Linked DNA regions of Homo sapiens: region 1 is reported to be linked to region 2. The links are microRNA targets in miRTarBase. Many come from high-throughput screens and were not tested one by one. Region 2 holds a microRNA gene; the other region holds the end of a gene's coding sequence.

Region 1 (7,105 bases), not on the chromosome of region 2:
ATAAGAAAGACGATATTATTAGCCGGGCGTGGTGGTGCGTGCCTGTAGTCCCAGCTACTCAGGAGGCTGAGGCAGGAGAATCACTGGAACCTGGGAGGTGGAATTTGCAGTGAGCCGAGATCTCACTACTGCACTCCAGCCTGGACAACAGAGTGAGACTCTGTCTCAAAAAAAAAAAATATATATATATATATATATATCTTTTCTATATATATAGAGAGAAAAATATGTGTTCATTATGGACTATATATATTTCTATATCTATTTATATATATATTCTATATATAGAGAAAAAATATATATATACACACACATATAGAGACATCGAGGGAATGTGTACTATTCAAAAAGGAATGTCCCATAAGTGTTACCATGGCAAAACTGTGTCTACACTGTTAACCAGCATGCTGTTGGCATTGTTGTAAACAAAGAAGCTAAGGGCAAGATTCTTGCCAAGAGAATTAATGTGCGGATTGAGTACATTAAGCACTCTAAGAGCCAAGATAGCTTCCTGAAACGCATGAGGGAAAATGATCAGAAAAAGGAAGCCAAAAAGAGAGGTACCTGGGTTCAACTCAAGTGCCAGGCTGCTCCACCCAGAGAAGTGTACTTTGTGAGAACCAATGGAAAGGAGTCTGGGCTGCTGGAACCTATCCCCTATGAATTCAAGCATAATAGGTGCAAAAACATAAAAGACCTCTGGACTGTAAAAATGTTTCTCTTCATTAAGTAGAAGTGTGCTGTCCCCTCCCCCTAATAAAAATTAAAACAAATTTTAAAAGTGTCCTAATTCATTGTGTAATGTCTTTATTATTCAAATTTAATGTATTTCTTGCTGAAAGATGTGAGGTGGCTTATTGTGCAACAAATTACTCAATTGGCTAGAAATGGCCAGATATTATTTATGAAATATTTGTACTTGTTTGAAGATAGTCAGGCCAGGCATGGTGGCTCATGCCTGTAATCCCAGTTACTCGGGAGGCTGAGGCAGGAGAATCGCATGAACCCGGGAGACAGAGGTTGCAGTGAGCCAAGATCACGCCATTGCACTCCAGCCTGGGCAACAAGAGCAAAACTCCGTCTCAAAAAAAAAAAAAGAAAAAAAGTCCATTTAAATCATCATGGAAGAAATAAAATAATTTACAAAAGTTAAAAAAAGAAAAAAGAATCTATTTGAGACTAGGGGATATCTGAAAGTACTGTAGTTGAAATATAAGTTTTTTATTCCTAAAAGTGGTTTCTATCACACATCCCCACTTTTTAGTACAGAGTTTATAGTGCTGAAATGGAGAGAAATTTTGTTATTTTTTAAAATAATATGTATTTTTCTGAATAGGTAATTCATTCACATGATTCAAAACTCAAAAGGCATAAAGAAAAGATAAATGGCAAAAAGTCTCCCACCCCTACTCCCCAACCACCCAGTTCTTTTCCCCAGAGGCAATCAATATTAACAATATCCTTCAAGAGTTAATTAATGCTTATTCAAGCAAATATGCATACATATATTTTAATCCCCCCCCCTTTTTACACAAATGGTAGTCTTTAATCTTGCTTTTTAACTTTAACAATATGTATTGGAGCTCATTCCATAACAATTTATAAAGAAGTTTGTGATGGTTAATAATGAGTGTCAACCTGATTGGATTGAAGGATACAAAGTATTGATCCTGGGTGTGTCTGTGAGGGTGTTGAGTCAGTGGGCTGCTATTCCTTGAAAATGGCAAGTGAGTCATGGCAGTACTCGGGAAAAGTACATACTACATGGAAATGACTGCACTCCAGCCTTGGAAACAGAGCGAGATCTCATCTTAAAAAAAAAAAAAGGTATTACAATGGGGAAAAATTGGTTTTTAAGAAAAGGACCATCGATTGTTTTCCATTATTCCATGTAAAGACTATTTTACATGGAGTTCATTGATTTGTTAACTTTAGAATTCAAATTCCTTATGGAGTTTATTGTAAATAAAGAGCAAGTTTTTGCTTGATTTCCTTCTGTTATCCCTAATACATAGACTCACTTTCAGAGTGTGCTTGGTAAAACCTGGAAGCTTGAAGATGAGCCTTAGGCATCACTGGCAGTGCAGGTGGGTGACAACACAACAGTAGGAAGGCTTCCAGATACTAACCACCAGAGTAGCTTGGCTTTTCTGCTTTACATAACAGGCTTCTAAGTAAGATTTCATTTCATGAAAAGGGTCTGCTAATCCAATTCTTTTGTTTTACAACTGAGTTTTGAATTTTCTACCTTGAATATTTGAAATGAGGACTTTGAATGTCATCAGGGCTAACAGTACCACCTATCAAAGTTCTGAAACTGCATTTCTCAGATTGACAAAACAAACAAAAGCCCAAATTGTTGCCTTGGGGCTTATTAATCTCAGACAGGGGATTTGTTACACCTTTTCTTTTCCATTGTCTTTGTGCCCAGTAGTGTCAAAACACATAATTGGTGCTCAAGTTTACTGTATGAATCTGACAGACCTTTCTCATGACATATATTCGCTGAGCAAGCAATACTGTAAAGCTAAGACATTTAAATTTGTGTGTACAAGTAATGAGAACACTTTAATACTAAATAAGGTGGGGCGCAGTGGCTCACGCCTATAATCCCAGCACTTTGGGAGGCCGAGGCAGGTGGATCACGAGGTCAGGAGATCAAGACCATCCTGGCCAACATGGTGAAACCCCGTCTCTACTAAAAATATAAAAATTAGCTGGGTGTGGTGGTGTGTGCCTGTAATCCCAGCTACTCGGGAGGCTAAGGCAGAAGAATCGCTTGAACCCAGGAGGCAGAGATTGCAGTGAGCCGAGATCGTGCCGCTGGCTTGGAGACAGAGTGGGACTCTGTCTCAAAAAAAAAAAAACTAAATAATATAGTAATAAATAACATAATAAATATAATAATAAGGAAAAGACTAAAGAACCGTTCCTATGACTTGAGGTTTTAAGAACACATTTTCTTTTTATTTTTGAGGCAAGGTCTCACTGTCACCCAGGCTGGAGTGCAGTAGCGTGATCATGGGTCACTGCAGCCTCGACCTCCACAGGCTCAGGTGATCCTCTCGCCTCAGCCTCCCATGTATCTGGGACTACAGGTATGTGCCACCATGCTCAGCTAATTTTTGTATTTTTTGTAGAGATGGGGTCTTGGCATGTTGCCTAGGCTGGTCTCAAACTCCTGGGCTCAAGCAATCCTCCCACTTCAGCCTCCCAAAGTACTGAGATTATAGATGTGAGCCACCGTGCCTGGCCTCACATTAAATTTTGTAGGGAAAAAAAAGTCAACGGGGACATATAGTTACAAGGTATATGCATTTTAAAGTCTCATTTTCCTGGATTTCAAAATGCCATTATTCTTACTACTACTGCTACTGTTACAACTTCTTCACCATGTGATGTTGCCCAAAGAGCAGCCAGACCCTCCTAAAATTAAGTTATGTTACATCATTCATCTGTTAAAATCCCTCAAATGGCTCCCCACCTTGCTTAGTAAAAGCCCAAAGTCCTTGCCATGGCCTACAAGGCCCCACATAATCAGTGCACACACACCCGTCACCCTGATCCATTGCATGCGTTTTTCTCCAACCTTATTTCTTTTTTTTTTTTTTTTGAGATGGAGTCTCACTCTCTCACCCAGGCTGGAGCGGCTCACTGCAATCTCTGCCTCCTGGGTTCAAGTGGTTCTCCTGCCTCAGCTTCCCAAGTAGCTGGGATTACAGGCACCTGCCACCACACCTGGCTAATTTTTGTATTTTTTGCAGAGACAGGGTTTCACCATGTTGGCCAGGCTGGTCTTGAACTCCTGACCTCAGGTGATCCATCCATCTCGGCCTCCCAAAGTGCTGGGATTACAGGCATGAGCCCACCGCACCCGGTCTCTCCAACCTTATTTCTTACCATTCTCTTTCACTCACTTTACTCCAGCTATAATGACCTCTTGACTGTTCTCCACGGCATCATGCATGCAGTTCCTACCTTGGGGCCTTCGGACTTACTGTTATTCCTGCCTGAAATGTTCTTGTCTCAGACACCCACAAGGTTTTGTGGGGTTTTTTTGTTTGTTTGTTTGTTTTGAGACGGAGTCTTGCTCTGTCACCCAGGCTAGAGTGCAGTGGCACAATCTCGGCTCACTGCAAGCTCTGCCTCCCGGTTTCACACCATTCTCCTGCCTCAGCCTCCCAAGTGGCTGGGACTATAGGCGCCTGCCACCACGCCCAGCTCTTTTTTTTTTTGTATTCTTAGCAGAGATGGGGTTTCACCATGTTAGCCAGGATGGTCTTGATCTTCTGACCTCGTGGTCTGCCTGCCTCGGCCTCCCAAAGTGCTGGGATTACAGGCGTGAGCCACCGTGCTCGGCAACACCCACAAGGTTTGGTTGCTTAGTTCATCCAGGTCTCTGTTGGACTGCCACCTTCCCAAGGAGGCCTTCTCAAACCATCTTATATAAAATAATCACACTCCATAAATATTCCCTAACACCCTTACTCTGCTGTTTCTCCATGGCACTTATTACATTGACATATTTATGTGTTTATTGTCTACCTCCCCTAACTAGACCAATAGCTCCTCAAGGGCAGGGACTGTTTCTGTGCACTGCTGAAATCCTGTCACTAAAAACAACGGCACAGAGTATGAACTTAAATGTTTAACTGTGTTTTCATAATGATTTAAAAAAAATTCCAGCTGGGTGCGGTGGCTCACGCCTGTAATCCCAGCACTTTGGGAGGCCAAGGTGGGCAGATCATGAGGTCAGGAGTTTGAGACCAGCCTGACCAACATGGTGAAACCCCGTCTCTACTAAAAGTACAAAAATTAGCCAGGCATGGTGGCGTGCGCCTGTAATCCCAGCTACTCAGGAGGCTGAGGCAGGAGAATCACTTGAACCCGGGAGGTGGAGGTTGCAGTGAGCCGAGATCCCACCGCTGCACTCCAGCCTGGGCGACAGAGCAAGACTCCGTCTCAAAAAAAAAAAAAAAAAAAGTCCTTCTAGCACCTTTATGGGGAAAATCTAAACAGGGACTTGAAGCTTTTAGAGATGTTCATTTCCCCAGATTTCATGGATTTGCACTAGAGGCTCCCAACAAGTAGGTCCATTTTAGGTCTATACTCCAGTCTACAAGGATTTGAAATAAGAGGAGAATCCAGTCAATACAACCTCTACTATACTCACGGACTTGACTGCCAGCACATAACCGCTTCCCTCCCCATCTCATCTCTAGGTTCTCTTTTCTCTCAAAAAGGTCAGGAACCCCTGGAATACTGTGCTGTACCTTACACAGAGCAGGTACCCAGACTGACTGACTACATTTTAACCTTGGAATCAGCCCATGCTAAATCTCTCCGGGTTGCAGATAATAACTGCAATAGGATGCCTTCTCAATCACAGAGTTGAATCTTATATAGCTTTTATTTCAGTGATCAGAAGAATGCAGTAAATGGAATCTACACTAACTAACATTAGGCATGCACCTCTACCTGAAACTGCTGTTAGCTTCTGATTGGCCTAAATCTTTATAACTTATTTAGGCACATCACTGAATTTTTTGTACCCTGATATACAGGGTAAGTTAATTTCTTCCTTGTGGCAGTCTAGTAATAAGAATTATGTTCACTGGCTAGATTCCTTTATAACTAAAGGCCTCTAGACTCTCAGGCTGCCTACCCTACCTTGAGACTTACTTAATATGGATATTTAAGCAAATCATCATATAGGAAAGGGAGATCAAGATAACTGAAGTGTACTGTATAAACACTCTTACAGATATTTTTCTCCAGCATTGACAATCAAACACTAGATAAGGATACCAAATTATTCTTCCCCTACTTCTGCCCTTTCTGATAAACACAAGGATCTCCCCTGAAATCAGAAATGACTCCACACAAATGAGAGATTTTTACGTATGTGGTCCCACTATCAAAATTATAGGAAGCAGTTAATGGGGCTTTGAGAAAAGCATAGTCCCATGTACAGTAATATGCATCTAAATAGAGTTTTCTTTCGCCTGTCAATTATTTTCACAAGATTAGCATTAAAAAATACAAGCAAACATATGACCCTTAAGCTTCACACACAAAAAATTGGTCTTTGTTCATTCTCAGATGACAGGATGTCCCAAGAGTAACAAAAGATGGGAGCCAATCCTCTCATAGCTGTTTCTTCAATCATCCCATCAACAGCTCTTCATTTCTTGAACTACCTTCCTTTTCCAAAGAGGTAATGCTGAGATCAGTCAGAAAGGCTTTCTGAGAAAACTGGCTTGGATTTCTGGGTCTGTTCCAGTCGATTCAAGATGAACTGGCTTGTATCAATGAAGCGCTCAACGCAGTTCACAAAACAGGCCTCAGCCCGACTGTCCAACTTTGGCCCAGGCTTGTCCATGCACTTCTCCTGCTCAGGACAAGATACAGAATCACAAAGGGAACTTGGAAAGAAAAAGACGGTTGGGGGCAGGGGTCCCTTTTTGTTGCTTAGAGAAAAAAAAACTTTACCTAAAAATAATATCTGATATGTTACTGATAGTTCACATTTGGCAGCTGACCAAGTATATAGCAATGTTCTCTAGCCTTACATTAAATTCTTACAACAATACTATGGAATAGATACTATTATAAATCCTCATTTTACAAAGAGGAAAACTGTGGCACAGAGATACTTTACCCAAAATCATAGGGCCAGAAAATGGCAGAGCTGGGATATTCCAGAGCAAGAAAATGGCAAAATATAAGTGAAGTAACCTTTCAATGAATTTGGTTTTAACTCCACAATGCTGTTTGAACTAAATGCCTTTAAGTTAACTACAGAATAAAAGGGTGAAAGGATAAATCATTTCAGCAAGGTACCCTAAAACCTACCAAAGAAGAAAAAAAATATGACTTGAGATTCTATAACCTTGTCTACTTAAGCTAGAGATTCTTGAATCCTGTCATGATGAATGGAAAATTGAATGCATTTTCCTAAGGGGTTCATCATAGCTTACAGTTTTTTTTCCTTTCTTTTCTTTTCTTTTTTTTTTTTGAGACAGAGTCTGGCTCTGTCACCCAGGCTGGAGTGCAGTGGCATGATCTCACTGTAACCTCCGCCAGGTTCAAGCCATTCTCGTGC
Region 2 (7,111 bases):
CACAGGGACCCCGGAGGTGTGAGTACAAGTTCGGATGGAGGCCACCGAGCTCTCGTCCTTCACCATCCGTTGTGGGTTCCTGGAGTCTGGCTCCATCTCCCTGGTGACTGTGAGCAGGGGGGGCCCCGATGGTGCTGGGGGGACCACGCTGGCTGTGTTGCACCCGGAACTTGGCATCCAGCAATGGGCCCCTGCTCGCCAGGCCCGCTGGGAAACCCAGAGCAGCATCTCTCTCATCCTGGAAGGCTCTGGGGCCAGCAGCCCCTGCGCCAACACCACCTTCTGCTGCAAGTTTGCGTCCTTCCCTGAGGGCTCCTGGGAGGCCTGTGGGAGCCTCCCGCCCAGCTCAGACCCAGGTGGGGCCGGGGTGAGGGGTCCAGGAGGGCAGGGAGGGGCTCGGGAACTGGCCATCCATCTGATTCTTGCCTCTGTGCCCAGGGCTCTCTGTCCCGCCGACTCCTGCCCCCATTCTGCGGGCAGACCTGGCCGGGATCTTGGGGGTCTCAGGAGTCCTTCTCTTTGACTGTGGCTACCTCCTTCATCTGCTGTGCCGACAGAAGCACCGGTGAGACCTGGGCCCTGTCCACGTCCCCCTGACACTGGGCTGGCCACATGCCGTGCAGAGCTCTGACCATCCTTGCTCTCTCCCAGCCCTGCCCCTAGGCTCCAGCCATCCCACACCAGCTCCTAGGCACTGAGAGCACGAGCATGGGTGAGGAGGGGGGCTGCTTTGGGGATGAGGTGGCAGGGGTAGGGGGGGCCAGGGCTGGGCCCAAGCTGTACAGACTCACTTGATCCTCCTTCCCCCGCGCAGGCACCCAGCCAGGCCTCCCAGGCTGCTCTCCACGTCCCTTATGCCACTATCAACACCAGCTGCTGCCCAGCTACTTTGGACACAGCTCACCCCCGACAGGGGGCCGTCCTGGTGGGCATCACTCCCCACCCACACCGCACACTGGCCCCAGGGCCCTGCTGCCTGGGCCTCCACATCCATCCCTGCACATGGCAGCTTTGTCTCTGTTGAGAATGGACTCTACGCTTAGGCTGGGCAGAGGCCTCCCTGCACTGGTCCTGGCCTCACTCTTTTCCCTGACCCTTGGGGCCCAGGGCCATGGAGGGACCCTTAGGAGTTCAATGAGAGAGACCATGAGGCCACTGGGCTTTCCCCTTCCCAGGCCTCCTGGGTGCCACCCCCTTACGTTATTCTTGGGCCTCTAATAAGTGTCCCACAGGTGCCTGGCCAGGCCCACCTGCTGCAGATGTGGTCTGTGTGTGTGCATGTGTGGGTGTGTGTGGGCACAGGTGTGAGTGTGTGAGCAACAGTACCCCATTCCAGTCGTTTCCTGCTGTGACTAAGTCAGCAACACAGTTCCTCTGACATGGGCCTTGGCTGTGCTTCTTTGGGGGTGAAGAGATTGGGGAGGAAGTCTCCACCCCTGGGAGGCAGAAGCCAGGTGAGAACCAGAGTGGGTTGGGGCCTCCTTGCAGGGCTGGGTTTGGCCCAGGGAGAGGGCAGTGTCCCAGTCTTAGAGATCTGTCCTGGCTTCTTGGGGTGGCGGGGGGTTGGGGGAGCTTCCTGAGGGACACCTGTGGCTTCCTAGACAGAATTGGGGGATCCCAGCGGGATGGTCCCTGCTGCAATCCCACCATGTCCTAGGACAGCAGCAAGGGTTCCTGGGGCTTCAGCCTGAGAAAAGTCCCTGTGATTTGACCTGGCGTCCCTCTGCCGGGCTCCCTGCTGTGGCCTGGGCTAGAGTCCTGATGCCCTCCTTCCACAGCTGGCATCAGGCAGGGCTGGAAAGTAGGAGGACTTGCCTGAAATCTGGCTGGATTTCAGAGCCTTGCTCTGTCACCCAGGCTGGAGTGCATTGGCACGATCTTGGCTTACTTCAACCTCCACCTCCCGGGTTCTAGTGATTCTCCTGCGTCAGCCTCCCGAGTAGCTGGGACTACGGATGTGCACCATCGTGTCCGCTAATTTTTGTATTTTTTTTTTTTTTTTCAGTAGAGACGGGTTTCACCATGTTTGGCTGGGCTGGTCTCGAACTCCTGACCTCAGGTGATCCACCCACCTTGGCCTCCCAAAGTGCTGAGATTACAGACTTGAGCCACGGTGCCCCGCCTGAATAGGAGCTTCTTAATCAAAATTTCAGCATGGCTCTGGGTCAAAATTGACCAGCTGATTTAATAAGTTGATGTAAAAATTTTACAGTCAGCTACCCCTGGGAGGGGGAGTCTCTCCCTAGTCAGTGAGGCACCAGATGCCAGAGCATTGGCAATGTACAAGGGGCTCAGCCCTGTGGCTCATATGTGTAATCCCAGCACACTGAGAGGATGCCTTGAGCCTGGGAGATTGAGGCCAGCCTGGGTAACAGTGACACCACGTCTCTGCAAAAAAGAAAATTAGGGGAGAACTGTGGTGCGTGCCTATAGTCCCACCTACAGGCAGAGCGAGACCATGTCCCCCACTAAAAAGAGGCCAAGAATGCAGGAAATATAGATAATATGGGCCCTGTGATGGGTGGAGGCCAAATAGATCAATACAGAATTGAAGAAGACACAGAGCACTTGTATTTCCCTTCAGGCATAGCGCGCTGGCTAGGACTCCAGTACCGTGAAGGGAGGCAGTGAGAGCAGACATCTGTGCCTCATTCCTGATCTCAAGGGGAAAGCAAGAACAAGGTGGGTGCCAAGGAGGGGCAAGGGGCTGGGGCAGGCATAGACGTGGCTGGTGAGGAAAGGAGGATAGTTGTTGGGGGAAGGTGGGGACATACAAGCAGCAGTTCTCAAAATGGGCAGGGTCCTGGCCCCCTCCCTGCCTCTGCTGAACACTGCATCCCATGCCTCTCCCATGGCCACCTGCTGGGCTAACGGGCTGGATTTAGACTCTGCCCATGTTGGAATCATGCCCTCCTCCAGGGCCGGTGCCTCCCAAAACCCCCCTCTGAGAGAGAGCCACAGCCCCAGGCTTAGCCCCAGGCCCTGTCACTGCTGTTGGGGGAGGGAGGATGAACCATCCGGGAGGCCTCACACCATTCCAGAGCAGAAATCCTGACACAAAAGGAATCTCCCATGGGGGTTCAGCTGGGTCCAGAGCCCGGAAAGTGACATAAACACGCACCTTGCATCTAAGGAGAATGCACGTGGCGGTACCGGGCCTGAGGCCCCTGGGGAGTATGTACCCTCCAGAGCTACCCAGAGGCTGTTGGCTAAAAGTTCTATGTGGCCCCCTCCTTGGGCAGCCTGGTAAGCAGGTGACCTTCTAGCTGGGTCCCATGGGCCACGGGCAAGGCAGGAATGGAACGAAGAGTCAGTCCTCAGTGGCTGGGTGTTGTATCCCATGCCTATAATCCCAGCACTTTGGGAGGCTGAGGTGGGCAGATCACTTGAGGCCAGGAGTTTGAGACCAGCCTGGCCAACATGGTGAAACCCTGTCTCTACTAAAAATATAAAAATTAGCTGGGTGTGGTGGCACACACCTGTAATTCCCAGCTACTTGGAAGGCTGAGGCAGGAGAATTACTTGAACCCAGGAAGCAGAGGTTACCGTGAGCCAAGATCACACCATTGCACTCCAGCCTGGGCAACACAGCGAGAATCCATCTCAAAAAAAAAAAACAAAAAGTCCTCAGGCAGGGTGGGCCACCCTCTTGAGGCCTTGCCCAAACAGCCAGGGGGTCCCTTGTCCTCTTTTCGGCCCACCTTTGCAGGTGGGACCAGTTCAGTCCAAAGCCCCGGTGCCTCAGTTTCCCTGTGGGTTGAACAAGGAGAATGAGGTGTATAGGGCCTGGCTCAGACGGAGGGGTTTCCTGAGCATGGGGAGCCTGTTTCCTCAGACCTGTGAAGGGAAGGAGGGTGGATCGGCCTGACTGGCCCTGGGAAGCACAGAGGAGCCTACTGGGACCAGGGAAGAGACTGACAAGAGAAGGGAGGCCTGTCCCTGCCTGCTTCTGTCTCAAGAAGATTGTTATCACTTCCTCTGGTGAAATCCTGCCTTCCTGTCCCCACGGCCCCTCAGCTGATGCCACCTTACTCTGGAGAGGATGGGCAGAGCCTCCTATGGAGGGAGCCCTGTGGGTCACCAAAGCTCCAGTGACCACCCCCGGGCAAAGACCTGCAGATCCCCTGTTAGAGACGGGCCCAGGACTTTGTGCGGGGTGCCCACTGTTGCTCTGAGCCTTCACTTCCTCAGGGAGGCTTCCTCAGGATCTCGAACCTGCGGAAGGAGGACCAGTCTGTGTACTTCTGCCAAGTCCAGCTGGACATACAGATCAGGGAGGCTGTCGTGGCAGTCCATCAAGGGGACCCACCTCACCATCACCCAGGGTGAGTCCAGCTGCCCTGGCACCAAGGAACCTTCCTGGTTCAGCCATAGGCTCAGGTGTGTGGAGGGAATGACCTGAGGGGCTGTATGAGGGAACAACCTCCTGGGGCTCCCCTATGCCTGAGTTCCTGCAACTCAGAAGTTGAGGCCCAGAGATCCAGGTAGAGGGGGCTCCAGTCCTGGGACTGCCCTGCAAGTCATGTGGCCTGGGACAGGGCTTCTCCAAGCTCTGTCCCCTCCTGTGTAGGGCAGGGAGGTCAGAGGGGACCCTGCAGATCCAGTCTCATGTCTGGGGGTCAAGGGGTGGCCTCGAGAGGGACCAGTCTCTGTGTAGGGGACCGTCAGCCCCCTCACCCCTTGAGCAAGACTGTGGTCCCTGCACCAAGGGAGCAGGCCTGGGGTGGGAAGAGGCCAGCTGGGCTGTGGTGGTGCCTGGGGACTGCATGGGAGCCCCTGCCAGGGAGGGAGAGGGACAGAGGACAAGCTGGGGGCTCTGGTGCTTGGGCTGGGGGCTGAGCGCCTGTGACCTCCACTGGCTTCCTCCTTCTCCTCTCTGAGGACTGAATCTGGGGTGCAGCAGAGCACAGACTCAGGCCCGCCTTTCCTCTCCCTGAAAGAGCCTGCGCTGGCCTTGGACAGAGAAAGGGATGAGAAGTGAGGCTGAGTGCGGTGGGGTCTGCAGGGATCCAGGTGGGAGGGGCCCAGCCAGCCAAGGTGAGGCCCAGCCCCTCAGCAGGAAGATGGGCACTGGGGCCCTTGGGCAGGGCTGACTTGACACTTTTGTGTGACTTGAGCCACTGTGCCCAGCCTGAACACCCTTTCCTGGTAAAACACTCCACAAACCAGGAAGAGAAGGAATGTACTGCAACAAAATAAAGGCCAGTCATGCAAGGCCCATGGCTGAAAGTCTTTCAGTCATTTTAGATGAAAGACTGAAATCTTTGCCTCCAAGATCAGGAACAAGAGAAGGATGCCCGCTCTCACTACTTCTATTCAACACAGGATTTGAAGTCAGGCCGGGCACAGTGGCTCACGCCTGTAATCCCAGCACTTTTGGAGGCTGAGGCGGGCAGATTACTTGAGCCTATGAGTGTGAGACCACCCTGGCCAACATGGCAAAACCCCATCTCTACTAAAAAAAAAAAAAAAAAAAGGATTTGAAGTCCTGGCCGGAGCAATTAGGCAAGGGATAAAAAGGCACCTAAGGCCCTTTTGCAATAAGAAGCCAGATGGATAAAGGAAGTGCTGGTCACCCTGGAGGTGTACTGGTTTGGGGAAGGTCCCCGGCCCCCACAGCCCTCTGGGGAGCCTCACCCTGGCTCTCCCCACTCACCTCAGCCCTCAGGCAGCCCCTCCACAGGGCCCCTCTCCTGCCTGGACAGCTCTGCTGGTCTCCCCGTCCCCTGGAGAAGAACAAGGCCATGGGTCGGCCCCTGCTGCTGCCCCTGCTGCTCCTGCTGCAGCCGCCAGCATTTCTGCAGCCTGGTGAGTACCCAGGACCGCCCAGGTATGGTCTCTGCCCAAACCACAGGAGGGGCCAACCCAAGACAAAGGCAGAACATCTGGGGCAGGGGCCAGGCTCCCACCTCCAGCAAACAAGGGCGGGTCCCATAGGGGTGGGTGCCGCCATCTCTTCCCCCTCCACCCTCCCCCATGCCTGAAGAGTGGGAGACCCAGGCCAGAGGTCAGTCCAGCCACCTGTCACACGACTGCCTGTGGGTGAAGGTGTGGGAGGGTCTGGGGTCACCCTCTTTGTGTCCTGAGGTGGTTTCAAGGTCTCTCCCCCACTCACTCCCTCCTTCCTCTAGGTGGCTCCACAGGATCTGGTCCAAGCTACCTTTATGGGGTCACTCAACCAAAACACCTCTCAGCCTCCATGGGTGGCTCTGTGGAAATCCCCTTCTCCTTCTATTACCCCTGGGAGTTAGCCATAGTTCCCAACGTGAGAATATCCTGGAGACGGGGCCACTTCCACGGGCAGTCCTTCTACAGCACAAGGCCGCCTTCCATTCACAAGGATTATGTGAACCGGCTCTTTCTGAACTGGACAGAGGGTCAGGAGAGCGGCTTCCTCAGGATCTCAAACCTGCGGAAGGAGGACCAGTCTGTGTATTTCTGCCGAGTCGAGCTGGACACCCGGAGATCAGGGAGGCAGCAGTTGCAGTCCATCAAGGGGACCAAACTCACCATCACCCAGGGTGAGTCCAGCTGCCCTGACACCTGCCTTGCCCACCGCAGTGAGGGTTTTGGTGACCACTGATGTCTTCACATTTAAACCCAGTGGTCTGGATTGAGAGCTGTTAGCATTTCACCTTGCTACCCCTTCCATGTCTGGGCTTCTGAGAGCAGCTTGCTCATCCTGAATGTCCCCAATCTAGAAAGCAGCACACCATGCCTTTCATCCAGACGCCCCACACCCCCAGAAGAGGGTCTGCTCATTCCTCATCTCTTCCAGCTGTCACAACCACCACCACCTGGAGGCCCAGCAGCACAACCACCATAGCCGGCCTCAGGGTCACAGAAAGCAAAGGGCACTCAGAATCATGGCACCTAAGTCTGGACACTGCCATCAGGGTTGCATTGGCTGTCGCTGTGCTCAAAACTGTCATTTTGGGACTGCTGTGCCTCCTCCTCCTGTGGTGGAGGAGAAGGAAAGGTAAGTGCCCAGAACGCACTGTCTCCTCAAGCTTCCCAGCTGGGGGTTTCTCTGAGCCCACCTGCAGCTAAGGGACTTCAGAAATATGCAGACCCTGCTGGCTCCCCTCAAGCCCACCAAGGCCGACTCTGG

The links. The annotated mature microRNA hsa-miR-6840-3p reads GCCCAGGACUUUGUGCGGGGUG and lies in region 2 at 4,138-4,159, shown strand. An mRNA with a match to its seed (bases 2 to 7 or 8) in the 3' UTR can be bound and repressed. Matches are read on the target gene's strand: a 7mer-m8 pairs with bases 2 to 8, a 7mer-A1 pairs with bases 2 to 7 and ends in A, and an 8mer does both.
Region 1: miRTarBase lists TIMM8A as a target of hsa-miR-6840-3p. The part of its 3' UTR that is shown has no 7-base or 8-base seed match.

What each region holds. Positions count from the first base shown.
Region 1 is chrX:101,340,270-101,347,374 of GRCh38, forward strand. It overlaps TIMM8A (translocase of inner mitochondrial membrane 8A), which reads right to left. Exons shown (of 2, transcript NM_004085.4): 2 at 5,392-6,391. The coding sequence ends at 6,230. It also overlaps the pseudogene RPL21P132. Among named protein-coding and RNA genes, the nearest start is that of TIMM8A, 4.9 kb to the right of the region's middle.
Region 2 is chr7:100,352,559-100,359,669 of GRCh38, forward strand. MIR6840 (microRNA 6840) reads left to right here and starts at 4,093; the gene lies at 4,093-4,163. It overlaps PILRB (paired immunoglobin like type 2 receptor beta), which reads left to right and starts at 5,559. Exons shown (of 4, transcript NM_178238.4): 1 at 5,559-5,808; 2 at 6,132-6,521; 3 at 6,779-6,979. The coding sequence starts at 5,745. STAG3L5P-PVRIG2P-PILRB (STAG3L5P-PVRIG2P-PILRB readthrough) reads left to right here. Exons shown (of 17, transcript NR_036570.1): 8 at 6-356; 9 at 439-565; 10 at 652-712; 11 at 815-925; 12 at 2,585-2,682; 13 at 4,192-4,325; 14 at 5,662-5,808; 15 at 6,341-6,521; 16 at 6,779-6,979. It also overlaps the pseudogene PVRIG2P.